Linked DNA regions of Homo sapiens. The protein of the gene in region 4 purifies or fractionates together with the protein of the main gene of each other region. This does not show direct contact. Each region holds a gene or a part of one and is shown on either strand. Other genes may lie near its edges.

Region 1 (4,185 bases), on a different chromosome or scaffold from region 4:
AATGACAGGATCAAATTCACACATAACAATACTAACTTTAAATGTAAATGGACTAAATGCTCCAATTAAAATACACAGACTGGCAAATTGGATAAAGTCAAGACCCAACAGTGTGCTGTATTCAGGAAACCCATCTCACGTGCAGAGACACACATAGGCTCAAAATAAAAGGATGGAGGAAGATCTACCAAGCAAATGGAAAATAAAAAAAGGCAGGGGTTGCAGTCCTAGTTTCTGATAAAACAGACTTTAAACCAACAAGATCAAAAGAGACAAAGAAGGCCATTACATAATGGTAAAGGATCAATTCAACAAGAGGAGCTAACTATCCTAAATATATATGCACCCAATACAGGAGCACCCAGATTCATAAAGCAAGTCCTGAGTGACCTACAAAGAGACTTAGACTCCCACACATTAATAATGGGAGACTTTAACACCCCACTGTCAACATTAGACAGATCAACGAGACAGAAAGTCAACAAGGATACCCAGGAATTGAACTCAGCTCTGCACCAAGTGGACCTAATAGACACCTACAGAACTCTCCACCCCAAATCAACAGAATATACATTTTTTTCAGCACCACACCACAACTATTCCAAAATTGACCACATACTTGGAAGTAAAGCTCTCCTCAGCAAATGTAAAAGAACAGAGATTATAACAAACTCTCTCAGACCACAGTGCAATCAAACTAGAACTCAGGATTAAGAATCTCACTCAAAACCGCTCAACTACATGGAAACTGAACAACCTGCTCCTGAATGACTACTGGATACATAACGAAACGAAGGCAGAAATAAAGATGTTCTTTGAAACCAACGAGAACAAAGACACAACATACCAGAATCTCTGGGACGCATTCAAAGCAGTGTGTAGAGGGAAATTTATAGCACTAAATGCCCACAGGAGAAAGCAGGAAAGATCCAAAATTGACACCCTAACATCACAATTAAAAGAACTAGAAAAGCAAGAGCAAACACATTCAAAAGCTAGCAGAAGGCAAGAAATAACTAAAATCAGAGCAGAACTGAAGGAAATAGAGACACAAAAAACCCTTCAAAAAATTAATGAATCCAGGAGCTGGTTTTTTGAAAGGATCAACAAAATTGATAGACCGCTAGCAACACTAATAAAGAAAAAAAGAGAGAAGAATCAAATAGACACAATAAAAAATGATAAAGGGGATATCACCACCTATCCCACAGAAATACAAACTACCATCAGAGAATACTACAAACACCTCTACGCAAAAAAACTAGAAAATCTAGAAGAAATGGATAAATTCCTCAACACATACACTCTCCCAAGACTAAACCAGGAAGAAGTTGAATCTCTGAATAGACCAGTAACAGGAGCTGAAATTGTGGCAATAATCAATAGTTTACCAACCAAAAAGAGTCCAGGACCAGATGGATTCACAGCCGAATTCTATCAGAGGTACAAGGAGGAACTGGTACCATTCCTTCTGAAACTACTCCAATCAATAGAAAAAGAGGGAATCCTCCCTAACTCATTTTATGAGGCCAGCATCATTCTGATACCAAAGCCGGGCAGAGACACAACCAAAAAAGAGAATTTTAGACCAATATCCTTGATGAACATTGATGCAAAAATCCTCAATAAAATACTGGCAAAACGAATCCAGCAGCACATCAAAAAGCTTATCCACCATGATCAAGTGGGCTTCATCCCTGGGATGCAAGGCTGGTTCAATATACGCAAATCAATAAATGTAATCCAGCATATAAACAGAGCCAAAGACAAAAACCACAGGATTATCTCAATAGATGCAGAAAAAGCCTTTGACAAAATTCAACAACCCTTCATGCTAAAAACTCTCAATAAATTAGGTATTGATGGGACGTATTTCAAAATAATAAGATCTATCTATGACAAACCCATAGCCAATATCATACTGAATGGGCAAAAACTGGAAGCATTCCCTTTGAAAACTGGCACAAGACAGGGATGCCCTCTCTCACCACTCCTATTCAACATAGTGTTGGAAGTTCTGGCCAGGGCAATTAGGCAGGAGAAGGAAATAAAGGGTATTCAATTAGGAAAAGAGGAAGTCAAATTGTCTCTGTTTGCAGACGACATGACTGTATATCTAGAAAACCCCATTGTCTCAGCCCAAAATCTCCTTAAGCTGATAAGCAACTTCAGCAAAGTCTCAGGATACAAAATCAATGTACAAAAATCACAAGCATTCTTATACACCAATAACAGACAAACAGAGAGTCAAATCATGAGTGAACTCCCATTCACAATTGCTTCAAAGAGAATAAAATACCTAGGAATCCAACTTACAAGGGATGTGAAGGACCTCTTCAAGGAGAACTACAAACCACTGCTCAAGGAAATAAAAGAGGATACAAACAAACGGAAGAACATTCCATGCTCATGGGTAGGAAGAATCAGTATCGTGAAAATGGCCATACTGCCCAAGGTAATTTACAGATTCAATGCCATCCCCATAAAGCTACCAATGACTTTCTTCACAGAATTGGAAAAAACTACTTTAAAGTTCATATGGAACCAAAAAAGAGCCCGCATCGCCAAGGCAATCCTAAGCCAAAAGAACAAAGCTGGAGGCATCATGCTACCTGACTTCAAACTATACTACAAGGCTACAGTAACCAAAACAGCATGGTACTGGTACCAAAACAGAGATATAGATCAATGGAACAGAACAGAGCCCTCAGAAATAACGCCGCATATCTACAACGATCAGACCTTTGACAAACCTGAGAAAAACAAGCAATGGGGAAAGGATTCCCTATTTAATAAATGGTGCTGGGATAACTGGCTAGCCATATGTAGAAAGCTGAAACTGGATCCCTTCCTTACACCTTATACAAAAATCAATTCAAGATGGATTAAAGCCTTAAACCTTAGACCTAAAACCATAAAAACCCTAGAAGAAAACCTAGGCATTACCATTCAGGACACAGGCATGGGCAAGGACTTCATGTCCAGAACACCAAAAGCGATGGCAACAAAAGACAAAATTGTCAAATGGGATCTAATGAAACTAAAGAGCTTCTGCACAGCAAAAGAAACTACCATCAGAGTGAACAGGCAACCTACAAAATGGGAGAAAATTTTCGCAACCTACTCATCTGACAAAGGGCTAATATCCAGAATCTACGATGAACTCAAACAAATTTACAAGAAAAAAACAAACAACCCCATCAAAAAGTGGGTGAAGGACATGAACAGACACTTCTCAAAAGAAGACATTTATGCAGCCAAAAAACACATGAAAAAATGCTCATCATCACTGGCCATCAGAGAAATGCAAATCAAAACCACAATGAGATACCATCTCACACCAGTTAGAATGGCAATCATTAAAAAGTCAGGAAACAACAGGTGCTGGAGAGGATGTGGAGAAATAGGAACACTTTTACACTGTTGGTGGGACTGTAAACTAGTTCAACCATTGTGGAAGTCAGTGTGGTGATTCCTCAGGGATCTAGAACTAGAAATACCATTTGACCTAGCCATCCCATTACTGGGTATATACCCAAAGGACTATAAATTATGCTGCTATAAAGACACATGCACACGTATGTTTATTGCGGCATTATTCACAATAGCAAAGACTTGGAACCAACCCAAATGTCCAACAATGATAGACTAGATTAAGAAAATGTGGCACATATATACCATGGAATACTATGCAGCCATAAAAAATGAAGAGTTCATGTCCTTTGTAGGGACATGGATGAAATTGGAAATCATCATTCTCAGTAAACTATCGCAAGAACAAAAAACCAAACACCGCATATTCTCACTCATAGGTGGGAATTGAACAATGAGATCACATGGACACAGGAAGGGGAATATCACACTCTGGGGACTGTGGTGGGGTGGGGGGAGGGGGGAGGGATAGCATTGGGAGATATACCTAATGCTAGATGACGAGTTAGTGGGTGCAGCGCACCAGCATGGCACATGTATACATATGTAACTAACCTGCACAATGTGCACATGTACCCTAAAACTTAAAGTATAATAAAAAAAAATTAAAAAAAAATTAAAAAAAAAAAAGAAAGAAAATACAATGTGGTCTCAGGAGAAAAGAGAACTAGAAACTGGAAAGCCATCAGGATCCAGGACAGGTACTTTCACATTCTAGCTCAATCTCTCTCCTTCTCTATGGGGCCATAAGGT
Region 2 (4,185 bases), on a different chromosome or scaffold from region 4:
ATCTGGGTATGGCTTAGCTAGGTCCTCTGGCTCAGGTCTGTCACTCACAGGCTGCAAAGTTTCAGCCGAGACTGCAGACATCTCAAGGCTCAACTGGGGAAAGGTAACGCTTCCAAGCTCGCTCACGTGGCTGTTGACAAGCCTCAGGTCCCAGCTGGCTGCTGGCTGGAGACGTTCTTTTGCTACCACATGGACCTCTCTATAGGGCTACTAACAAAACAGAGTGCTTCATGCAGATGTTGCAGCTTGCTGTCCTTGGAGCAAGGGCTAAGATTGAAAGATAGCAAAATAGAAGCCAAGGTCTTTTTGTAACCTGATATCAGAAGTGATATCCCATGGCTTCTGCTGTGTTCCTCATTAGAGACAAGTCACTAGTTTCAGCCTAATTCAAGGGGAAGGGATTACACAGTGGGAGGAATACCTACAGGAACCAAATCATTGAGAGCCACCTGAGATACTGCCTGCCACAATATAAGACATCAGAAGCTGTTTGATAAAGACTCAATTCAGTATCACCTCGTGGTTTTATCTCATAGTAATGTTCTCAGACTGAAATTAGATAATCTGTCAAAGAATTTGTAAAATATAAAGCTCTATACAATATCAAGATTTTATTAGTTTTATTAATGCTGAGAATCCAGTTCCACTTTATAGATAGTGATATAAGAACAGCAAATCAATGATTAAGAGATGTGAATTTTACACCTTGCTGTGTGTGTGACCTTGGAAAAGCCATTTATTTGTTTCATACCTTAGTTCTCTCATGAAAGTGATGATAATAACAGACTTACCAGGATAAAATAGATAATAGACAGCCATGCAGCACATTGACAATATTTTGGTCACCCACAAACCACATATATGACAGTGGTCCCACAAATTATAATGGAGCTGAAAAATTCCTACAGCCTAGTGACATCATCGCTATTGCAATGTTGTTGTAGCACAATGTATCGCTCATGTGCTTGTGATGAGGCTGGTGTAAGCAAACCTGTGCTGCCAGTTGTATAAAAGTATAGCACATACAATTATGTATAGTATATAATACTTGATAATAAACAACTGTTACTGGTTTATACATTTACTGTACTATACTTTTTATCATTATTTTGGGGTGTGTTCCTACTTAATTAAAAAAAAAAAGTGAAAAGAAGTTTAACTGTAAAACAGCCTCAGGCAGGTCCTTCAGAAGGTATCCCAGAAAACAGCATTGTTATTACAGGAGATGACAGCTCCATGCATGTTATTGCCCCGAAGGACCTTCCAACGGACAGGATGTGTAAATAGATACAGTGATACTGATAATCCTGAGCCTGTGTAGGCTAAGGCTAATGTGTCTGTATCTTAGTTTTGTTTGTTTGTTTGTTTGTTTGTTTGAGACAGAGTCTCAGTCGCCCAGGCTGGAGTGCAGCAGCACAATCTCACCTCATTGCAACCTCCGCCTCCCAGGTTCAAGCAATTCTCCCACCTCAGCTTCCTAGTAGCTGGGATTACAGGCACTCACCACCATGCCCAGCTAATTTTTTGAATTTTTAGTAGAGACGGGATTTCACCATATTGGCCATGCTGGTCTTGAACCCCCGACCTCAAATGATTCGCCCGCCTCAGCCTCCCAAAGTGCTGGGATTACAGGCGTGAGTATCTTAGTTTTTAACAAAAAAGTGTGAAAAGGAAAGAAAAAATTTAAAGTTTTAAAAATAGAAAAAAGTTTATAAAATAATGTTATAAATAATGAGAATATTTTTGTATAGCTATACAATGTGTTTTAAGCTAAGTGCTATTACAAAAAGAGTCAAAAAGGTTTTTTTAATTTAAAAGTTTGGGGGTTTTTTGTTTTGTTTTTGTTTTTGTTTTTGTTTTTTTGAGATGACGTTTCTTTCTTGCCTCCCAGACTGGAGTGCAGTGGCGTGGTGATCCCAGTTCACTGCAACGTCCGCCTCCCCAGTTTCAAGCAATTCTCCTGCCTCAGCCTCCCAAGTAACTGGGATTACAGGCATGTGCCACCATGCCCAGCTAAATTTTGTATTTTTAGTAGAGATGGGGATTCACTATGTTGGCCAGGCTGGTCTCAATCTCCTGACCTCAGGTGGTTTACCTGCCTCGGCCTCCCAAAGTGCTGGTATTACAGGCATGAGCCACCACACCCGGCCTAATTAAAAAGTTTATAAAGTAAAAAAGTTATAGTAAGATAAGGTTAACTTATTATTGGAGAGAGAAAAAATGGTTTTTACAAATTAGGTATAGCTTAAGTGTACAGTGTTTTTAAAGTCTACAGTAGTGTACAGTAATGTACTAGGCCTTCATATTCGCTCAACACTGACTCACTGACTCACCCAGAGCAGCTTCTAATCCTGCAAACTCCATTCATGATAAGTTCCCTACACAAGTATCCCATTTTTTATCTTTATACCATATTTTCACTGTACCCTTTCTACGTTTAGATACACAAATACTATTGTGTTACATTTGCCTACAGTATTCAATACAGTAACATGCTGTCTGGCTTTGTAGCCTAGAAGCAATAGGCTATGCCACATAGCCTAGGTGTGCAGTAGGCTACACCATCTAGGTTTGTGGAAGTACACATCTTGATGTTCACACAATGATGAAATGGCCTAACAATGCATTTCTCAGAATGTATGATGCATGGCTATATATAAAATTATGCTGAAATCTAAAAAAATGAGATGATGGTCATAATGACAATGATGAAGATGACTATATGTTTCAGCTTCTACTCCATGGTCCTTTGAGGACAACTGAAGTAACTAGATATGATTTTTGTCAGTTGTGTTTTAAGTGTATGTATCAAATCCAGCTACCCCAAGTTTTACAATAACTTTATATGGTTTAATCTTATCTTGCTGAACACATTAGATATGCTGCCCTGAAAAGTGGCTTGCAAACAGAATTTTTAGAAACTGAACCATAATTAAAATGCACAGAGGCCGGGCACGGTGGCTCACACCTGTAATCCCAGTACTTTGGGAAGCCAAGACAGGCGGATCACCTGAGGTCAGGAGTTTGAGACCAGCCTGACCAACATGAAGAAACCCTGTCTCTACTAAAAATACAAAATTAGCCATGCGTGGTGGCACATGGCTGTAATCCCAGCTACTCAGGAAGCTGAGGCAGGAGAATCGCTTGAACCCAGGAGGCGGAGGTTGTGGTGAGCCGAGATCGCGCCATTGCACTCCAGCCTGGGCAACAAGAGCGAAACTCTGTCTCAAAAAAAAAATGCACAGAGAAGGTTTCCATGTATCTAGTGGAATTGTACAATGCTTATGTGATCTTGTGATATCATTAATATTTTGTAATATAAATAATTATCCTCATTATTTTAATTTTCTGGCATTGTAGCAACACCTGTATAAATATTTATAGTTACTTAAGAACTCACAAAACAACCTTTTGAAGTAGGCAAATAAAACCAACTCTTGGTTATCTCAAAGAGTTCTTTTTGTTTGATTCTTGTGTTATCTACATTTCTTCTCTCACTGTAAATTGGCATAAATTTGGCAGATACAAAACAAGTAAAGTTCAAACTCCTCCACTCAACCACTTTAAGGGATTTTTTTTCCTGCTTATAAGTATATCACATGTTCATTGTAGAAAATTTGGAAATGCAGAAAAGTATAAAAAATGTAGTTAAAGTTACTCTTATTGCCACCACCAAGAGGCAGCCACTATTGATACTTTGATGAATTTCTGCCTTAGTGCTTTCCCTCTCTATAGGGAGAAAAGAGTGGTTTCTTTTTCAATGAAATCAGGAGTATGTTATATACTTTTCTTGTGTTCTGCTTTCTCTAATTAACATTATTTTTTAAATGATATTTCCATTTATTGATTCAACAACATAAATTAGTAAATATTGACTATATCCAAAGTGGAATTTGGATGAACTGTAAGAAATATAGTTAATAATTGAATTCAGATTTTTTAAATCAATTCCAACAATTGTGAAGTAGTTTCTTTTCCTTTTTTTAAAAAATTTTACTTTAAGTTTGGTGATACATACGCAGAATGTGCAGGTTTGTTACATAGGTGTACATGTGCCACGGTGGTTCACTGCACCTATCAACCTGTCATCTAGGTTTTAAGCCCTGCATGCGTTAGGTATTTGTCCTAATGCTCACCCTCCCTTTACCCTCCACCCCGCGACAGGCCCCAGTGTGTGATGTTCCC
Region 3 (4,185 bases), on a different chromosome or scaffold from region 4:
AACAGGCGTGCACCACCACACCCAGCTAATTTTTTAGTTTTTGTAGAGATGTTTGGCGGGGGGGGGTCTCCCTATGTTGCCCAGGCTAGTCTTGAACTCCCAGACTGAAGCAGTCCTGCTTCGGCCTCCCAAAGTGCTGGGATTACAGGCATGAGCCACCACGCCAGGCCTACTTAAATTTTTTTTTTTTTAATTGAACTGCACAAACAGAAAATGCACAAATGATAAATACTTAGTTTGATGAATGTTCTCAAGGGGAGAACACACCTGAACCCACCATGCAGATGGAGAATTAGGAGAAGGAAGAGTGCTATGTCCTGTAATGTGATGGAGCGATAAGTTATCATCAAGGAGAAAAAGGCCGGGGCCTGGAGCGGGACAGTTCTAAGGGTGCTGTTTGAATTGGTCAGGGAAGGTCTCTTTAGCAAATGATGGTGAAGCAGAGGAGATGGAACAGAGGCAAGGGACCCTCATTCTGTCATCAGAGGGAAGAGAATTCTAGGCAGAAGGAACAGCCAGTGCAAAGGCCCAGAGGCACGAGCAAGCTTGTGTTGGAGGAACAGTGAGGATGGCTGCTGCTCCATAAGGAATCTCTGCGGCTTTAATCCAACTTCAAGTTTGGGGTGAACTTGAAGTTTAAAGAGGAAAGAAAGATGAGAAAGTAGGGGAAGAACTGGTTTCTCCTCCTGGCTGTGCCTTTGTCTCCCTTGTGTGTGGAAGAGGTCCCAAGGCAGGGTAAAGTCGAGATTCAGCTCTGGCACACTCTTCCTGTCTTCATCTCATGCCCAGTAAGAAGCCCTGATTCAAGCCACCAGCCCAAGCCCAGGCCTCTGTCCCGACATAATAATAATTTTAGCTAATGTTTATCAAGCACTTACTATATGCCAGGCACTACCCTAAGTGCTTTACATACTATAACTCATTTTCATCTCACCTGAGCCCTATGAGGAAATAGTCCACCATTCTCATCCCCATTTTACAGACAAGGAAACTGAAGCACAGAGAAGTCAAGTAACTGGCTCAAAGTCACACAGCTATTTAGTGACAGAGCTGGGCTTCGGACCCACACAGCCTGGATCCAGACCCATGACCTTCACCATGGGGACAAACACACATGCACTTCCTACTCCACTGGTCTTTGCTGATCTAGTAACTCTCCTCCACTACCCACCATGACATAAATAAGCCTCAGCTGTTCTTCCCTGAACCCACCCTCTGCAGGATTGTCCCTGTGCAGAACAGCTCATTCATAGATCAGAGCCTTCCCTGGAAGGGGAGTTGTCTTTTCATTTTGAAGGCTGTCTTGGAATCTCGGCTAAACCACGGTTGGCTCCTGCGTCTGTGTTTTGACCTGCTTTCATACTTTTTTTTTTTTTTTTTTTGAGACGGAGTTTCGCTCTTGTCACCCAGGCTGGAGTGCAATGGCGGAATCTTGGCTCACCGCAACCTCCGCCTCCCGGGTTCAAACGATTCTCCTGCCTCAGCCTCCTGAGTAGCTGGGATTACAGGCATGCGCCACCATGCTAATTTTTGTGTTTTTAGAAGAGACGGGGTTTCTCCATGTTGGTCAGGCTGGTCTTGAACTCCTGACCTCAGGTGATCCCCCCGCCTTGGCCTCCCAAAGTGCTGGGATTACAGGCATGAGCCACCGTGCCCAGCCCCTTAATGCTCTTGAAAGAAAGGAGGAAGAAGTTCTAGGACAGGAGAGACAGATTAGTGAAGCAACATTTAAATATTTACTTTTTGAATATGTCATACATTCACATGGTTCTAAAAAAGGTATGTGGTGAAAAGTCTTATCACATCCTGTCCCCCAGGTCCCCTCCCCTGCAGAGTTATTAGCAGCTTATAAATCATATCTCGCTTTCTATCCTATGGACCAGCACTGCCCGGTGGAACTTTCTACAATGATAGAAATGTTCCTTATCCAGGCTAGGCATGGTTACTCACACCTGTAATCCCAGCACTTTGGGACTCTGAGGCAGATGGATCACCTGATGGCAGGAGTTCGAGACCAGCATGGCCAACATGGCAAAACCTGATCTCTACTAAAAATTCAAAATTAGCCAGGCATGGTGGCAGGTGCCTGTAATCTCAGCTACTCGGGAGGCTGAGGCACAAGAATCGCTTGAACCCAGGAGGCAGAGGTTGCAGTGAGCTGAGATTATGCCACTGTACTCTGGCCTAGGTAACAGAGTGACACTCTTGTCTAAAAAAATAAAAAGAAAGAAAATGGTTCTTATCTGTACTGTCCAATCCAGAGGCCACTGGCCACACATGGCTACAGAATGCTTAATGAGGCCAGTATGACTGAGGAACTGAATTTGTCATTTAATTTATCGAAATGTAAACAACCTAATGTAGCTAGTGGCTTCTGGATTGGACAGCGCAGCTCTGCACATATACAGGTCAATTTGCATGTCTGTATGTTTAACTTTAATTTTTAACTTTATTTCCTCTTTCTGCCCCGCCACCCCCCACCCCCAGCAAGCAGGGCAGCCTAGTGTACACGCTGTTTTTGTTTGTTTGTTTGTTTGTTCTTTGAGACAGGGTTTCACTCCTGTCACCCAGGCTGGAGTGCAGTGGCACGCTGTTGGCTCACTATAACCTCCACCTCCTGGGCTCAAGTGATTCTCCTGCCTCAGCCTCCTGAGTAACTGGGACTATAGGCATGCACCACCATGCCTGGCTAATTTTTGTATTTTTAGTAGAGACGAGGTTTCACCATGTTGGCCAAGCTGGTCTCAAACTCCTGACCTCAAGTGATCCACTCACCTTGGCCTCCTGAAGTGCTGGGATTACAGGTCGGGGCCACCACACCCGGCCTGTACATGCTGTTTTGCATCTTGCTTTATACGTTGGGGAGTGCCAGATGTCACCATCTTTCGTTCTTCCTCTGGGGCTGGTCAAATCCCCCTGAGAAAACTCCTCTGGCCTCCTGGCGGGGGGTGAAGGCCAGGCTGCCAGGGCCAGGCTGCCAGCTTCTGGGAGCTGCAGGGGCAGAGGCAGGGAGCTGTCAGGCATTCAGCCAGCAAGACGCACTCAGTACCCACTTGGGGTTCAGAATCCCCCTCCCTCATCTTCAGATGGGCCAGATGTCCCCAAAGCCAGCGGCCCCTTTCTGTTTCACCCTGTCTACAGAATAAACCCCCAGTCACTGGGGGTGGGGGAAGAGTAAGGGGAGAGGGGAAACGAGATTTGGAGGTCTAGCTGCTGCTGAAACAGCCCTCAGTTCGTCTTTATTTTGCCTTCTGCAAAACTGGCCTGGTGTTGCCAGCTCCTTTTGAGGACTTTGCTACCGGTTCTCAGCATCCCTCAATTGCTGGCTTAGGATTCATGGGTTTTTAGGGGTGGGGTGGGATTAGCATGTCCAGCTGCTTTCCAGTTTCCAAAGTTCTGTCCCTATCATATTGCCTCTGATTTAAAAAAAAAAAAAAGCCATTTTAAAAAAAAGATGTAATTGAGGTTCAAGAGAGAGTGAAACTAGAGAGGTGTTCAATCCATCACTTTTACACAGAAATTTCACCTTTTTTTCACTTATAAAATCTAATGAAAGAGTTCTATATTATTATGTTAATAATACAGTAGTAATATAACAGTATAATGTAATAATTAATATATTATATTAATTATATATTATAATTATATATTATATTATATTATATATATTATATATTATATATTAATTATATATATTATATATATTATATATTATATTATAATATATTATATTATATTATATATATTATATATTATATTATTATTATATTATATTATATATATTATATATAATATTATATATATTATATATTATATAATATAATATTATATATTATATTAATATTATAATATGTAACGCATAACATGTAATATTGATAATATAATAGGTGCGATGGCTCACACCTGTAATCTCAGCACTTTGGGAGGCCGAAGCGAGAGGATCACTTGAGCCCAGGAGTTCAAGACCAGCCTGGCCAACATAACGAGCACCTGTCTCTACAAAAAATTAAAAAAAAAAAAATTAGGCATGGTGGCATGCATCTGTAGTCCCAGCTACTCAAGAGGCTGAGGCACGAGGGTTGCTTGAGCCCAGGAGCTTCAGGCTGCAGTAAGCTATGATCACACCACTGTACTCCAGCCTTGACAACAGAGTGAGACCCTTTAAATAGATAGATAGATAGATAG
Region 4 (4,185 bases):
AGATTTTTTTTTTTGTCCTGTGAAGTAGATAAATCAGGTGAATCGATTTGCCATTTATAAATTGAAAAGGAAAATAAAAGTTGTATGTTTCTATGTCTGTATTAATCCATGAAACAGTGTAATATGCTGGAGCTCACTAGCCCCAGAAAATATAACTCAGCAAATGAGCACAGCACTATCGGGACAAGGCAGATAGGATAAGGATAGTTTCTTTCCCTAGGGAGATGACCATCTAAGGAACATTTTTAAAGTCACAGCGCAAATTACATTACACCAAGAAGCAGAATCTTCAAGATTGGGTTAAAAGCTGCAGGTTGTAAAACATGAGAAAAAGCACCATTTTGGGGACCTTTTTTCTCATGTGAATTAGTGCCATGAAATTTCAAAGAACTAAATTTAATCAAGTATTGGATATTTCTGAGGCCCTGAAAAAAACTAACATTCTGTGCTTAAGATTTTATATAAGTAATTACCCTATACAGGTTATCATTATATCACTGCAACCTCCATCTCCTGAGTTCAAGCGGTTCTTCTGCTCCAGCTTCTCAAGTAGCTGGGATTACAGGTGCGTGCCACCACTCCCAGCTAATTTTTGTATTTTTAGTAGAGATGGGGTTTCACCGTGTTGGGCAGGCTGGTCTCAAACTCCTGGCCTCAAGTGAGCTGCCTGCCTCGGCCTCCCAGCCTCTATACAGATAATTTTTTAAGGTAAAAATGATGTTTATAAGAATAGTAAATTAATTCATTTGGAACTTAATATGCTTCATTTTAAGTTAGCTTTATGGATATCGTATTATAAGTTGGTTAATCATTAAGTTTTTTTACTTTGTAAGTAGCGTAGGAATATGTACTCATTGTGGAGGAAAATTGACATGGAAGCATGTAGGGTAATAAATCAGCCTTTCTTTATACCCCTTCCTCATATTTGTTTATTTAAAAGTCTGTGTGGTGAGTGTCAAAAGTCATGAGGGAAGAATCCCTAGGTTTTTATTTTTATATGCACTGTTTAACACTTGTATTTGATGATTATATGTTTTCTTAAATTTTTTTTCACAGAGAATATGAAACTGGTGTCAAAATGACATCCAGATTTGGGAAAACATACAGTAGGAAAGGTGGAAATGGCAGTTCAAAATTCGATGAAGTCTTTTCCAACAAACGGACTACCCTTAGCACAAAATGGGGAGAGACCACATTTATGGCTAAATTAGGGCAGAAGAGGCCCAATTTCAAACCAGATATCCAAGAAATTCCGAAGAAACCTAAAGTGGAAGAAGAAAGTACTGGAGATCCTTTTGGATTTGATAGTGATGATGAGTCTCTACCAGTTTCTTCAAAGAATTTAGCCCAGGTTAAGTGTTCCTCTTATTCAGAATCTAGTGAAGCTGCTCAGTTGGAAGAGGTCACTTCAGTACTTGAAGCTAATAGCAAAATTAGTCATGTGGTCGTTGAAGACACTGTCGTTTCTGATAAATGCTTCCCTTTGGAGGACACTTTACTTGGGAAAGAAAAGAGCACAAACCGAATTGTAGAAGATGATGCAAGCATAAGTAGCTGTAATAAATTAATAACTTCAGGTAAGTTTTGATTTTCTTTATTCTCCGCCAAGAGAGCTTTGTGCAACCAATTTATTTAAATGATTTAAATTCTAAAATATATATTGTGTTTTCTTTCTGCACTTATGATACATGGGGACCATTGATAGTTTTGTAAAAGACATTTAAGAACTTTAAAGAAACCAGTTGGAGGTTGAAATAAACAACTTGGATGTTAACATTTATAGACTGTTGCGCAGGGTACGTTTTGGGAACAGTCATAAGTTTATAACCCCAATTCCAATAAGAAATATCTCTTTTTGTTGTGTTAGGATCACAAAGTATCTCATTTCTATTACTGTGGAGGATTTGGATGGTTATTGATAATGAAAATGAGATGAGTATTTAAAATGAGGATTAGTTACCAATGGTAGACTCTCTGCCAAAACTAGTTCAGAAAGATTAAGGGGGTATTGAGTGGAGACATTTAAAGAATTGAACTTGATTCCAAATTGAGATTAGTTTGGGGCCAGTATCAACTTGTATTGATAGATTTTTTTTTTTGAGAAGGAGTCTCGCTGTCGCCCATGCTGGCTCCGCCTCCCAGGTTCATGCCATTTTCCTGCCTCAGCCTCCCGAGTAGCTGGGACTACAGGCGCCCGCCACCACGCCTGGCTAATTTTTGTATTTTTAGTAGAGACAGGGTTTCACTGTGTTAGCCAGGATGGTCTCCATCTCCTGACCTCGTGATCTGCCCGCCTCACCTCCCAAAGTGCTGGGATTACAGGCATGAGCCACCGTGCCCGGCTGTGTTGATAGATTTTAAACCACAAAACTGGTTGTATTTTAAAAATGTTAATTTGTAAATATAGCATCTAGTATTCTCTCCTAAAACGATATATTTTGTTCTGTCTTCTGTAAGGGATTTGAGATTTATAATAAGTGAAAAAGGTGCAATTAATTAAAAGACTGAAGAGCTAATATTGAGGGTGGCAGGGAAGAGGTGGGGTGGAGAAGTGGGAGCACTCTATCAGCATTAGGATAAGGGTGGCAGTATACTGTAATTGAAAAGAAACCTTAGTTCTTGACGTCTTGGCAAAGTTTAGCAATAATGAGAGGTTATAAAAATCTCCTATTTTGAAAGGAAGTAAACACAGACAAAACTTGGCTGTACTGAATTCTTAAGGCAAATTTGTCCTTTGAAGGTTAAGGTATGTGAAACAGTACAATGTACTGGGCCTTGCATAGTTTTACTAAAAATGTTGAGCATTTTTTCACTCTTTTTCTCACTCTTGGATGAGACGATGAGCCAGCTGTTATTGTCATTCCCTTGATCCTCAGGGTTAATTCTAATTTGGCTGTCCTTCCTGCTTTGCCCACATTTCTCCTCAGGCGTTGTTGACAAGTTAAGTTTAGGTTAAATTTCCATTAAAAAACAGCGTAAAGGACCTGTGCAGTGGCTCATGCCTGTAATCCCAGCACTTTGGGAGGCCAAGGCAGTTGGATCACCTGAGGTCAGGAGTTCAAGACCAGCCTGGCCAACATGGTGAAACCCCATCTCTATTAAAAATACAAAAAATTAGCTGGGCATGGTGGCGGGTGCCTCTAAATCCCACCTACTACGGAGGTTGAGGCAGGAGAATCACTTGAACCCAGGAGACAGAGGTTGCAGTGAGCCGAGATCGCACCACTGCACTCCAGCCTGGGCAACAAAGCAAGATGCCATCTCAAAAAAAAAAAAAAAAAAAGGCATAGACAGCATAAAAACTGTTTCCAGGTCAGCTCCTAAAAATGTATAAATGTATATTAAAATCATCAAACTTTTTTTTTTGAGACACAGTCTCGCTGTGTTGCCCAGGCTGTAGTACAGTGGCGCAGTCTTGCCTCACTGCAACCTCCGCTTCCCGGATTCAAGTGATTCTCCCACCTCAGCCTCCCCAGTAGCTGGGATTATAGGCACCTGCCATCATGCCCAGGTAATTTTTGTATTTTTGTAGGGACAGGTTTTCACCGTGTTGGCCAGGCTAGTCTCAAACTCCTGACCTCAAGTGATCTGCCTATCTAGGCCTCCCAAAGTGCTGGGATTGCAAGCGTGAGCCATCGCTTCTGGCCCATCAAACTTTTTTTGAACTAAAATGAATTTTAACTCAGCTCTCATTTTATATAAGAAGCTCAAAGAGGTTAAATGACTGTCCAAGGTCAGCTAGTGGCAGAACTGGAATGAGATTCGTTTATTATCAACATATTGAGCACCTACTGTCCGTCAAACCACTGTACAAGGCTCTGCGAATGCTATTCTGCTTGTGTTTGTTGTTCCAACTGACATTTCTTTTTTTTCTTTTTTTTTTTTGAGATGAAGTCTCGCTCTTGTCCCCCCAGGCTGGAGTGCGATGGCGCTATCTTGGCTCACTGCAACCTCCGCCTCTCGGGTTCAAGCAATTCTCCTGCCCCAGTCCCCCCGAGTAGCTGGGATTTTAGGCACCTGCCACCATGCCCTGCTAATTTTTGTATTTTTAGTAGAGACGGCGTTTCACCATGTTGGCCCGGCTGGTCTAGAACTCCTGACCTCATGTGATCCACCCGCCTTGGCCTCCCCAAGTGCTGGGAATATAGGCGTGAGCCACTGTGCCCAGCCTGACATTTCTTGATG
Region 5 (4,185 bases), on a different chromosome or scaffold from region 4:
TATTTGGTCAAACGAAAAAGAATTTATTGCTGTCTGTTTAACATGTATTTGTTTGGTTGAAAGGATCTTTTTAGAAACTGTAGGAAAATAAACAGAACCAACCAGGTGAAACAAAGCACAGACATTGGGTTAGGATGTAGTGAGTTGTGAACAATCAGGATTCTGGGTGTGATGGGGGTCCCTGTCTCATAGGTGATCCTTTGGTGCCATGTGACCGAGAGACATGGTGTCTAAGGCCCATGGCCTGGAGACCTGGGTGCTGCTCCTAGCTGACTGTGGACCTTGGGCAAGTCCTTCATCCGTCCTGTGCCTCACTGTCCTCATCTGAACAATGGTATGATGACACCTGCCCTCTCTTTCAATCATGCTTTGAGGATACAGTGAGATTGGTTACAGTGAACCTTCAATGAGTAGAATGTGGTATGCCATGGTGGGTTGTAGTAGATGGTGCTCCCTGCCTTTTCTCCTCTGTTTTCCTCAATTTGGGAACAAATGAGATTGGCAGAAGGAGGGAGCTCACGGTGCAGTACTTTTCTACCAAAGTGTGCCCACTGGTGTCACCTCCTAATGTTAACTTGGATTTCCTAAAGCAGTCCCACTCTGTTATGAGAGTCACTGACTCCCGTGGACATCCCCACAGTAAGCAGCCTTACAAAATCCAGTCCCCTTAGGGCAGAGTGAGTGTCATAGAATAATGACTCCAAACCCACGTCAAAAATGGCTTGTTTTCAGCGATGTTATAAAACAAAGGCCTGTTTTTTGGAATTGGGGGTGACTGGGTGGTTTGGATTGAAATGTGGACAAAGATAGCATGTGTATTTTGAATAAAATAAAAATTTTGTAATAAAACTTTTAAAAATCAGTGATGTAAAATCAATATTTAAGACTATAGGCTATAAATTGTTTGATTTCATTAACTAGCCCTTTTGATGCCTAGACATGTTGTAAAAAAATTGTGCTATGGCTGCCTTTTCTTCTGCCCCACAACACAAAGGGCTATTTCTACAAGGCAAAGTTTTGTATATGTGCTATTCTTTACTTCAGATTGAGAGTTGGGAAAAACTGGAGTAAATAATGGGTTTCTTACTTGCTTAAAAGCATATTTATATGTGTATCTCAATATATACAAGGCAGGTTCCCCTATAAAAGTCTGGAATGTACTGCTTAATTTTACACTTGTGTAGACACGATTATTTGTGACTGAAAAGTGGAATAACGTGTGGATTTTGTCAACTCATTATCAGTCTGTTAGCAGTCCTCTATGTGAGGCATGGTGGTCTAATTGTGAAATTCTCCCTGTATATGGGTGTCTGTGTGAAAGACAGCACTTTCTTCCTGTAAATATCTTTTGATATCCATTTATGTAGAATTCCAATGAATATGTCTTTGGAAAAGGTAATGTATCAAAGTTTTTATTTTGCCAATTGATCTAAATGCCCATATAACTAATCAGAAATCCAGTTTGGTTCAGATTGGGATTTTCTTTTAAAGAAAAAAAAAGTATGCAGAAAAGACTATTGGAAGAATCATGTGTTAGTGACACTTTACATCAACGTTGCTTCAATATTTTGGAATTGACCAGGCTGCTTTCTCCTACCTGCAAGAGAATGTGCCTGACATTTCCCAGTGCTTACTTTGGGCTATAGGAAGTCCAGCGGGGATAGCTCGAGCCTCTTGCTCCCTGAGTCATTTATTCCCTTTACCTGAACAGAGCCTTACCTGCAATTCATAGTGAGAGCACCTGGGTCTGTATCCTGACTCCACTCTAAGTGAGGTGGGACTGAATCACTGTACCTCTCTGGGCCTTTTCATTTGAAACAAGTGGGTTAGACTAGATTAGCTCCAAAGTCCTCTCTTGCCCTAACATTTTATTTTTATTTTCCTGTGGTTACCACTAGGGTCTGACACGTAAAATGTGAGGGATCACTTAGAGGTTTGGATGTTATATTTTTGCATTGTTACAGCTTATACTCCCCAGTTGAGGACCTGTGTCATTCTTAGTGGCCCCACGACCCCTCTGTTTGTATTCCTGCTCCACTTATCTATACTTTTTTGGGTAATCATCCCACTTTTTTTTTTTCTTGAGATGGAGTCTCGCTGTGTTGCCAAGGCTGGAGTACAGTGGTGCAATCTCAGCTCACTGCAGCCTCCTCCCGGGTTCAAGTGATTCTCCTGCCTCAGCTTCCCAAGTAGCTGGGATTACTGGCGCACGCCACTACGCCCAGCTAATTTTTGTATTTTTAGTAGAGACAGGGTTTTGCCATGTTGGCCAGGCTGGTCTTGAACTCTTGACCTCAACCTGCCTCAGCCTCCCAAAGTGCTGGGATTACACGCATGAGCTACCGCGTCCAGCCCCACTTTTTTTCTACTCTTGAAAAAAACAACTTTCTAGTCCATGAGGTACTTTGGCTCCATCCCCCTCAAAAACAAAACAAAAAATCCATTTAAAGTGTCCTCCTAGAAAAGCCTCAGAACTGCCTTCAACTACATCTGTCACCTTTATAGAATATTTTGAAATTCTGGAAGAGGATGGGAAACAAAATTCTAATTTAGCTAGAGCTGTGATCCCCAAATAAGTGCTGACAAAATTGTCTACCACAGAAAGGCCGTCCTTGTCATCTTGTAGGCATCACTGCTGCTAAATCACATCAGTACATGCCTTCTGTGGGGAGATGGCAGGGGGCAGGGGCAGGACCAGGGGATGGGATTAGATAAAGTGTGATAATGTCCTTTAGATAAAAGAAATCCTACGCTATAGAACAAGGTTCTGTACTCTTGAGTTGGTGTCTGAGATCACCTGCACAGTGTTACAGAGATTTTCCACTCCATAAATCACTCTAAAAGAGTTTGCATAAGACTCGGTAGACCTGTGCTATTCAATGTGGCAGTCAACAGCCATATGTGGCGATGACTACTCAAAGTTTGGCTTGTTCAAATCGAGACTGTGTTGTACACATACAATACACACCAGATTTTGAAGGCTTGGTACCAAAAAGGAATTTAAAATATTTCACCAATATTTCATATTGATAACATGCTGAAATGACACTATTTTGGATGTACTAAGTAAAATATTAACAATTTAATATATTTATATAATTGAAATTAAAATTCTTTTCACCCATTTTTATTTTTTTAAAAATGTGGCCCCTAAAGAACTTCAAATTAGACATGTGGATAACGTTATACTTCTATTGGACAGCCCCACTCTAGACTTACATGGTGTGGGGTAGGCAGTGAAATCCGTAAATAGGAAACGCAATTCTGCAAAGTATCTAAATAGACAGAAACAACACAAATATTTTTGCTGGAGTCAGGAGCACTGTGAGGCACAGAACATCTCCCAGAAAGCAGATTTTTTTTTTCTGCCGAAAAACCAATATATATATGTATGATCCCAATTAAAAGACAAAAGCAAATGAGCCCCAAACTGCCTGTCTTCAGCTTTGCCTGGGAGCTGCTACCTTTGCTCTTCTAGCATCTTCTAGGTACCAAGGATATTAGCCACTTGAGGGTGTTGGGCATATTTGTTTCATTGTAGGCAAAATCCTCTTGTGGTTTCCCCTCCCCAGGTATTGTTGAGTCTGTTCAAAGCTGGGTGTGTTGAAACACTGCACAAATCCTGCCACTCTTGATGTGCCGCTTGTCTCAGCCTTGGCAGAGGCTGAGTCTGTTCCTGTGCCCACCTGTCCAGCAGGTTTTGATGTTGGCTCCTGAAAGAGTTTGTATTTATTTTATTTTGCACTAGTCACAGTTGTTGTTAAACTGTATCAAATGTTTTGGGAGATTATTTGCCTGAGATGGAAAGAGAGATGGATGATTTATTGCTTCAATTGTTTTAAATTAAAAGCTATTCTCACAATCTGAGGCCCTTTATGGCTCTTTTTTTCTTTAATTTTGAAAAATGCCAAGTAAACGGATTCTGCCATTGATTGTTTTCATCTGTCAGTGGAACAGGTAACTTGAGACAATGACTAATCTTATTTCTTTTTAGGGGTTCTTGGCGTTACCAGGCAGCCATCACAGTGGACCATCAGTGGTGGCACATTGTTACCTCTGTGGAGGAGGGAGGATTTGGGGCAGGGCGGAGTCTCCTGCCTTGGACTTTATCTGCTGGATGTCATGTCACAGATCTTTCTCTTGTTCCCTAGATCTTGGTTTGCTGACAGCCCCCTTAACACATAT
Region 6 (4,185 bases), on a different chromosome or scaffold from region 4:
CTGAAAAAAAAAAGTTGTTTGCTTGGCTAAGGGGGTAACCACAGTCCTGTGCTCACCGTCCGTGCAGATCTAACTTACAGGTGTTTGTGAGCCATGGGAATATTCACCAATAATCAGAATGTTGTTAATAATGTGGAAGAAACCTCCATGAAATATCATTAAAACTTTCCTTCCTGTCTCAAGGGTAAATTTAATAATCTTATTCTCAAGTGAATCATATAAACGTGCTAGTTTTATACTAAATAAAATCTTTCTTTTTCCTGGTGAAAAATAATTTGATTATCTGAGAAAAGATGATGACTAGTCTCACTCTGGGATCTGACTTTCAGGAAAAACTGCTCTTGAAAATGCTCAAAGCACTGCGTTCCCCAAGACACAAGGCCAAGTGGGGGTGACATGGTCAGCATGCAGCCTGGACCTTAAGACAGCCAGACACATTTTTCTTTTTGGGTTTAATAAAAACCTTGTTTGCCAGTCGCTCTTTTCTGGGTGCTGGACTGTCGTCACACCTCTGCGCTCTTCCCAGTCTCTCCATGGCCTCCCCCGGAGCCCCGCTGTCCTGGCTCCCCTTCTTCCCTCTGTCTTGGCCAGGTCCTTTCCCCCATCTCTGCTCATCCTCACTCCTTCTGGAAAGCCGTTCAGGCTCGTGGTGAGCTCTGTGCCTCCTGCCGTCATCCACATGGTATCTTTGTGCTTCAGATTCTTGTTCTTGAGATCTCTCCACATCCCTGTGCTCTTTATCACTGCCGCTGTGTGACCTATGATTCAACACAAATGATCAGCAACTGCAGTAAACCGCCGGTTGGCTGCCCACCCTCCTTTCTAGACCACAGGTTCCCAGACAACAGGGACCCATGCGAAGTGCTCAGCGCTGCACTGCTGAGGCTGCACTGCGATGGGCACACAGCAGGCGTTGATAAAAACCACTACAAAGAGGAATAAATCATAGTAATAGTATCTGTCATTTCAGTTGAGTGACAGATAGGCAATATGCCTTATACTAAGGTACTTTTTTTTTTTTTTTCTGAGATGGAGTCTCGCTCTGTTGCCCAGGCTGGAGTAAAATGGCGGGATCTCAGCTCACTGAAAGCTCCGCCTCCTGGGTTCACACCATCCTCCTGCCTCAGCCTCCCGAGTAGCTGGGACTACAGGTGCCCGCGACCACGCCCGGCTAATTTTTTGTGTATTTTTAGTAGAGACGGGGTTTCACTGTGTTAGTTAGGATGGTCTCGATCTCCTGACCTTATGATATGCCCATCTTGGCCTCCCAAAGTGCTGGGATTACAGGTGTGAGCCACCGTGCCTGGCCATGCTAAGGTACTTTTTATACATATTTTCTAATTCTCAATAACCCTCCAAAGTAAATACCTTCTTTTGACCAGGCATGGTGTCTCACGCCTGTAAATCCCAGCACTTTGGGACGCCAAGGTGGGTGGGATCACCTGAGGCCAGGAGTTGGAGACCAGCCTGGTCAACATGGTGAAGCCCCCTCTCTACTGAAAATACAAAAATTAGCCAGGTGTGGTGGCATGTGCCTGTAATCCCAGCACTCTGGGACGCCAGGGGCAGGCAGATCATTTGAGGTCAGGAGATTGAGAGCAGCCTGGCCAACATGATGAAATCCTGTCTCTACTACAAATACAAAAATTAGGCCAGGCACAGCGGCTCACACCTGTAATCCCAGCACTTTGGGAGACCAAGGCAGGCAGATCTCCTAAAATCAGGAGTTCGAGACCAGCCTGACCAACATGGAGAAACCCTGTCTCTACTTAAAATACAAAATTAGCCAGGCATGGAGGGGCATGCCTGTAATTCCAGCTACTCAGGAGGCTGAGGCAGGAGAATTGCACGAACCCAGGAGGCAGAGGTTGTGGTGAGCTGAGATCGCACCATTGCACTCCAACCTGGGCAAGAGGAAAACTCCGTTTCAAAAAAACAAAAAAAAAACAAAAATTAGCCAGGCATGGTGGCGGGTGCCTGTAATCCCAGCTACTTGGGAGGCTGAAGCAGAATTGCTTAAACCTGGGAGGCGGAGGTTGCAGTGAGCCGAGATCGTGCCACTGCACTCCAGCCTGGGCGACAGGGCGAGACTTTGTCTCAAAAATAAAATTAAAATAAAATAAAATAATAAAACAAAATAAAATAAACCTTCTTTTCTACAGATAAAATGACTGAGACTAAAGTGGTCCAGTGGCTGTCCTGGGAGCCCAGGTGCACATCCATCATGATGTGCAGAGTAAAATTAACTGACATTTAATAATGGCAGATTAATTATCTTTATGCATTTATCAGAATATTAAATGAATAGTAAATAAATGGCTGCTTCGCTCATTTGCCAGGGCTGTTGGGGACCATAAGGATCTGTAACCAAGTATGAATTCACAGCAGACACGTGGCAGTAGGTCCTGCTGTGTCATCAACTGTCACAGTAACAACACCGGTAACATCATCACAGTGCTTCACAATCATGGATTTGATAATCATATATAAATTTTATAAACAAAGCAATAAACCAAAACTCCCAAGAAGTAGAAAAAATACTTCATCAACTCTGAACGAAAGGCAGTGAGAAATCACACCTACGACTATGGCTCTGGGAAGCCGGCAGCCTAATCGCATTAGTCTTCCCACCTAAAATCCACGTCCATCATCCCCTGTGGGCCAAGTGGCCCTGGGCACCAGGAGACTGTGGGTGGCGAGAGGCAGTGAGTGGGCAGGAGTCCCGGAGGGGAAGGTAAGCCCAGGTGCCTGGGGCCCTGAGGATGGTGGATGCCAGGAGCAAGAGGGACAGGATCCCTCCTGACTGGCATCTGGCTGGTCTCTCTGGCCCACCGGGCAGATAATGCTGTGTCTGTCCCTTTCGCAGATGAGCTCCCTCCATAGAGCTGCACTGTCATATGCAGCAAAGGAAAAGAAAAAGGGAGGACCCACAGTGCACAGCCAAAGCTGCTGGTCAAGATCCACAGCCAGAGGAGCCAGGGACAGCTTCAACCAAAGGATCACAGCACTTAAAATTCTGTTTCTCTATCACAAAAGATCTGCCAGACCTAAAAGAGGGGGTTCCCAAATATGCAATTCTGTAGATAAATTGCAAGGGGGATAAAAGAGCAAAGGGCAAGATATCACAAACACAGAGAAAAATAAAAAACAAAAAACAAAAAGAAAGACTGGGAAGACAGATCCTGAAGACCTGACATGCAACAGCAGGAATCCAGGAGGCGGCTCAGGAGTAAAAGGAGGACATGGAGGCAAAAGCAAAGCAAACAACAGGAAGAAACTCCCGATCTGAAGACAGACTTGAGACTGCAGACAAGACGAGTTCACTACGTTCCTGCCATGCTGATGGGAAATGAAGGCTAACGTGTACTCGCACACCCTGGAAAGTCTTGGATTCCAAGAACAGTGTGAAATAGGCATACTCATACTGACAAAGCCTACGTCACCATGACTGGGAGCTGACGTGGTCATAACAATGAAAGCACGCTCACGTCTCCTGGGGCTCCTCCAGCGAGCCTTCCATGGGCCTGGCTTTTACGACTGCACCGGGGGCACAGGATTCCTGCTTGCCACCTCCAGTATCAATCTCCTCTCCTCTTTCTTTTGGTTTCTCTGTGGTTGGTTCCTCTCCCTTTTCTGGTTTCTTAAGAAGCTGAGAAATTACAATGTTAGTAAAGTATCACCTTGAGAGCATATTTTAAAAGAAGCTGTTAAATAAATAATTACAAATATACCCCAATATTGAAGCCAAATGTTTGCACAGCAAAGAATTAAAGCTAAAGGTCCAAAAATGAGGTTTTTGGTTTAATACGTGGTGGAACATTCAGTGAATGAAATATTTTTTAGTCATGAAAAGTAAGGTAGGTTAATGTGATGCAAAGATGTTCACGTAATGAATAAAGGGCTAAAAAACAGAACATGCACCACAATCTCACTTACACTTTTCTCTTTTGAGACAGAGTCTCGCTCTGTCGCCCAGGCTGAAGTGCCGTGGCGCACTCCCGGCTCACTGCAGCCTCCGCCTCCAAGGTTCAAGTGATTCTCCTGCCTCCACCTCCTGAGTAGCTGGGACGACAGGCATGCGCCACCATACCCGTCTAATTTTTTTTTTTTTTTTTGAGATGGAGTTTCACTCTTGTTGCCCAGGCTGGAGTGCAATGGCACGATCTTGGCTCACTGCAACCTCCT
Region 7 (4,185 bases), on a different chromosome or scaffold from region 4:
GACCTCATCCATGGACGGGACCGTGCGAGCCTTTGACCTTCACAGGTGATGTTTTTGCTCCGGATTGGCTTGGGGCAGGCTTCCCCCACGCAGAGGTGAAGGTGGAGGGTGAGGCTGCAGTGCAGCTGCTGGGGCAGGGGACCCTGGCACGTGACTCTGACCTTGCCTCTTCTCTGCAGGTACCGAAACTTCCGCACCTTCACCTCTCCACGCCCCACCCAGTTCTCCTGTGTGGCGGTGGATGCGAGCGGTGAGATCGTCTCTGCAGGGGCGCAGGACTCCTTTGAGATTTTCGTGTGGTCCATGCAGACAGGCAGGCTCCTTGATGTAAGCACCCTGAGGGGCTGGGCTGGGGCTCAGGAGGGGCCCTCCTGTCTCCTGGGAGAGGAGCGCAGGGAGCTGAGGTTACACTCCGAGGGCCCATGCCCCTGGCCCAGAGCTGCCCAGAGAGCCGCCTCGGCCGCCACCTCCACTCTTCACGCCTCCTTGCTCTACGGTAGGTTTTGTCTGGACACGAAGGGCCCATCAGTGGTCTGTGTTTTAACCCAATGAAGTCCGTCCTGGCCAGTGCCTCCTGGGACAAGACAGTGCGCCTATGGGACATGTTTGACAGCTGGAGGACCAAGGAGACGCTGGCCCTGACCTCTGATGGTGAGCACGAGGCAGCAGGCAGGAGCAGCGGCCTGGGGACCAGCAGCATGCTGTCACACCCACTGCCCTGTTCCTCGTTGTGGGTTTGGTGTGAACCTTCTGGTGGGAAGCAGGGGGTGGCTTTTATCCAGACCTGCTGGTGTGGCAGCCCTTGAGGTTGGCAGTACCTAGGAGACAGCAGATTGGCGAGTCAGGCCAGCGTGGCTTCCACAAGTCCTTGTGGGGCTCCCGCTCTGTGGGCAAGTACGCCAGGCAGGAGAGAACAGCTCCCCGAGGGTGAAGGGCTGCTGCCGCAGCTGCTTCCTGATTTTCGGAGTTGCTTTGGAGCTCTGCCAGGGCTGTGTCACTGGGAGAAGGACACAGGGACCATGGGGGGCCCAGACGCTGGATGCGGCCAGTCCCGGAATCTGCAGACTGGGAGAAGGATGAGGGGGCCATAGGTGGGCCCGGAAGCCAGATGCGGCTGCCCAGGGATCTGCAGACTGGCCTCAGGCCACTGCCTGTCTTTCTGACGGGGCTGTACTAGAGGCAGCCGTGGCCTCCTGTGTTCATATGGTCTGTGGCTGTCAATGCCTCAGCGGCGGTGTTGAAAGACCACGTGGCTCACAAAGACCCAGCCCATCCATGTCCGGGTGTGGACAGACTCTGCCATCCCAGGAGGCTGGTTCTCTCTGCTTCCCGCTGCCTCACCCCACCCCCAGGCCTGGCATTGGCCAGGCTTTTGGCATCACATGTGGCTTCTTTGCAGAGGCTCTGTATTCTAGTCTGTCCAGCCGCCCTCAGTAACCACCATCACTCACCCATCAGCCTCACCTTCCCAGCGCCCCCTCCATCGGCCTTTGTGGGTCCTGTGGCCCCAGCTGGACCGCCTGGTGCTCTTCACTGGCGCTGAGTTGTTCCTCACCTGTCTGGGTTGGAGCTTCTCCTGGGAGGAGATTCTTGTGTACCAGACCAAACAGGCGCTGGTCTCTTAGGGGTGCCAGGGCACGGCCTGGTCTCCAGCCAAGGGTGGTTGGTGGCCTGCCTGCGGGAGACTGGGGTCTTCGTTGGGCCTTACTTTGCATCTCTGTTTAGCTCTGGCTGTGACTTTTCGCCCTGATGGTGCGGAGCTGGCTGTGGCCACACTGAACTCACAGATCACCTTCTGGGACCCTGAGAACGCGGTGCAGACGGGCTCCATTGAGGGCAGGCATGACCTCAAGACTGGCAGGAAGGAGCTGGACAAGATTACAGCCAAGCACGCGGCCAAGGGGAAGTGAGTGTCAGCATCGGGCCTCCTGATTTGAGACCCCAGCCAGCCACCAGGCTCCTGCAGCTTCTCCATTTTTGGCCTTGTTCTTTGTTCCTGAGACCGCTGAGTCCCTGTGGGTGGAGGCAGGTGGTCCTGAGCCCTCTGGGGAGAGTCCATGTCCTCCTTAACTCCTGGGATCGCACAGCCCCCAGCACAGGAGGACGTCTGGATTTACTGAACATAAACTTGTTCAGCTGAGAGCTTGCATCCACTTCCAAACCTTGATCCTGAATTATGACATCGTCCTGGTGTGCAGAGGGGAGAGCAGCCGGGTGCCCGAGCTCACACTGGAGACCTGGCACTTGGGGAGGCTGAGGCGGGTGGTTTGCTTGAGCCCAGAAGTTTGAGACCAGCCTGGGCTACGTGGCAAAATGCCATCTCTACAAAAAGTAGAAAAATTAGCCAGGTGTGGTGGCACATGTCTGTGGTCCTAGCTAGTCGGGAAGCTGAGGCAGGAGGATCGCTTGAACCCGGGAGGTCAAGGCTGTAGTGAGGATGGCGTCATGCCATTGCACTCCAGCCTGGGTGCTAGAGCAAGACCCTGTCTCAAAAACAAAACAAACAAAAGCAGAAAACAGCCCTGGCAGCCTCCTAAGAGTAAAAATGCAGGTCCTCAGTCACCTCACTTGACTAGAGAGTGCTACGTGGATGGTGAAGACATAGTGTCCCCTTGTCTCAAGGAGTCGGGCCAGCACAGCACTGACCAAATTGCCTGCGCGGGGTCCTGGCTGGGCTGTGAGGCTCAACTGGGTGGGGGTCAGGCTTAGGAGAAGGGGGAGGATCTGTGGGATGTGCCCGGGGTGGGTGGCCTTGGGGGCTGGACCTGTGTCCCAGGAGCTCAGAACCTGTTCAGCAGAAGGTCTTCCTCCAGAAAGAAGTAGCGACCCTGTCTTGGAAGTGGTATGAATGCCTGTGTGCAGTCCTCATGGGTTCGCCCTGAGTGTGGAACTGCTGGGTGCTGGTGGTTCTGTTTCCAGCTTGGAGGAGCTGCACGGTTGCCATTCCCACGAGGAACGCTGTCGGCTTCTGGCTTCTCCACCTCCTCGCCAGCACTTGTTGCTTTATTATTATTATTTTTTTAATGAGAGCTGTTGGGGTGGATGTGAATTCGTATCTCATTGTAGTTGTGATTGTGGTTTCTCTAGTGACATTCAGCATTTTCTGTCTGCGGCTTGGCCGTTTGTAAGTCTTCTTTGGAGAAGTGTCTGTTCAGGTCTCTTGCCTGTTTTTGAATTGGGTTGTTTGGATTTTGGTTGTGGATTTTAGGGGTTTCTCTGATACCTGATGTGCAGATATTTGTTCCGCTTTGTGAACTGTCTTTCCACCGTTTTGGTGGCACTCTTAGTTCTGATGATGTCCACTTTGCTCATTTTTTCTGTTGTTCTTTGTTCTCTACTGTCATAACTAAGGGACCTTGCCCACCCCGAGGCGTCTGTTGAGCGGGGTGGTAAGGGCTGGTTTCTGGTTTCTGCAGGACTAAGCAGACGTGACTGAGAGTAGGCTGCTTAGGGTGGAGGCCGACTGGTCGCCGTTTTGTGCTGACCTCAGCAGGGAACACTGTTCCTTGAGCCACTTGTTCCTTTTGTGAAAAAGACATTGATTCTCAGGAAGCGGAAGCATCTAAGGGTGGTGCTGGCTCAGAGCGGAACCAGGTGATGGCACCATTGGACATTGTGGGTTTTAAAAGTCTCGCGTGAGTTGAGGCAGCGAGCCTTGGCGAAAGTTGCTGAGGCTGGTGTTTGCTTCCTGGAGGGCTGGTATAGGATCTCCTCTATTTCCTAAGGTTAGTTTTTATTTTATTTATTTTTATTTTTATTTTTATTTTTGATTTTTGACACGGTCTCGCTCTTGTCACCCAGGCTAGAGTACAGGAGTGCAATCATGGCTCACTGCAGCCTCCAACCCCTGGGCTCAAGTGATCCTCCCACATCAGCCTCCTGAGTAGCTGGGACTACAGGCATGTGCCACCGCACCCTGTTAATTTTATTTTTTGTAGAAACAGGGTCTTGGTATATTGTCCAAGCTTGTCTTGAACTCCTGGACTCAAGCAATCTTCCCAACTCAGCCTCCCAAAGTGCTGAGATAACAGGCGGGAGCCACCATGCAGGCCTAAAGTTGGTTTTTAGGAGCCATACGCTGAGGTTTCCGTGGTGGCCACCGTAAGTCCATGTCTCCTCTCCACCCAGGGCCTTCACCGCCCTGTGCTACTCTGCAGACGGCCACAGCATCCTGGCGGGAGGCAT

What was found.
Region 1: the proteins of WAPL (region 4) and RIC3 purify together in Homo sapiens (co-immunoprecipitation; one large-scale study listed by IntAct). This does not show direct contact.
Region 2: the proteins of WAPL (region 4) and HTR1E purify together in Homo sapiens (co-immunoprecipitation; one large-scale study listed by IntAct). This does not show direct contact.
Region 3: the proteins of WAPL (region 4) and ZSWIM9 purify together in Homo sapiens (affinity purification with mass spectrometry; one large-scale study listed by BioGRID and IntAct). This does not show direct contact.
Region 5: the proteins of WAPL (region 4) and USP13 purify together in Homo sapiens (affinity purification with mass spectrometry; 2 studies listed by BioGRID, with this or other methods). This does not show direct contact.
Region 6: the proteins of WAPL (region 4) and UPF3A purify together in Homo sapiens (affinity purification with mass spectrometry; one large-scale study listed by BioGRID and IntAct). This does not show direct contact.
Region 7: the proteins of WAPL (region 4) and PWP2 purify together in Homo sapiens (affinity purification with mass spectrometry, with the first as the bait; one large-scale study listed by BioGRID). This does not show direct contact.

The regions. Positions count from the first base shown.
Region 1 is NC_000011.10:8,141,153-8,145,337, forward strand, and holds part of RIC3 (protein RIC-3 isoform a precursor), read right to left. Parts: intron 1-4,185. UniProt on the Homo sapiens protein: Molecular chaperone which facilitates proper subunit assembly and surface trafficking of alpha-7 (CHRNA7) and alpha-8 (CHRNA8) nicotinic acetylcholine receptors.
Region 2 is NC_000006.12:86,943,889-86,948,073, forward strand, and holds part of HTR1E (5-hydroxytryptamine receptor 1E), read left to right. Parts: intron 1-4,185. UniProt on the Homo sapiens protein: G-protein coupled receptor for 5-hydroxytryptamine (serotonin). Also functions as a receptor for various alkaloids and psychoactive substances.
Region 3 is NC_000019.10:48,183,775-48,187,959, forward strand, and holds part of ZSWIM9 (uncharacterized protein ZSWIM9), read left to right. Parts: intron 1-4,185.
Region 4 is NC_000010.11:86,514,963-86,519,147, reverse strand, and holds part of WAPL (wings apart-like protein homolog), read left to right. Parts: intron 1-1,056; 5' UTR 1,057-1,078; coding exon 1,079-1,577; intron 1,578-4,185. UniProt on the Homo sapiens protein: Regulator of sister chromatid cohesion in mitosis which negatively regulates cohesin association with chromatin. Involved in both sister chromatid cohesion during interphase and sister-chromatid resolution during early stages of mitosis.
Region 5 is NC_000003.12:179,785,540-179,789,724, forward strand, and holds the end of USP13 (ubiquitin carboxyl-terminal hydrolase 13), read left to right. Parts: 3' UTR 1-3,862; downstream 3,863-4,185. UniProt on the Homo sapiens protein: Deubiquitinase that mediates deubiquitination of target proteins such as BECN1, MITF, SKP2 and USP10 and is involved in various processes such as autophagy, endoplasmic reticulum-associated degradation (ERAD), cell cycle progression or DNA damage response.
Region 6 is NC_000013.11:114,298,304-114,302,488, reverse strand, and holds part of UPF3A (regulator of nonsense transcripts 3A), read right to left. Parts: intron 3,650-4,185; coding exon 3,489-3,649; intron 759-3,488; coding exon 464-758; exon of another isoform or gene 438-463; intron 1-437. UniProt on the Homo sapiens protein: Involved in nonsense-mediated decay (NMD) of mRNAs containing premature stop codons by associating with the nuclear exon junction complex (EJC) and serving as link between the EJC core and NMD machinery.
Region 7 is NC_000021.9:44,120,452-44,124,636, forward strand, and holds part of PWP2 (periodic tryptophan protein 2 homolog), read left to right. Parts: coding exon 1-45; intron 46-179; coding exon 180-327; intron 328-500; coding exon 501-651; intron 652-1,725; coding exon 1,726-1,906; intron 1,907-4,128; coding exon 4,129-4,185. UniProt on the Homo sapiens protein: Part of the small subunit (SSU) processome, first precursor of the small eukaryotic ribosomal subunit.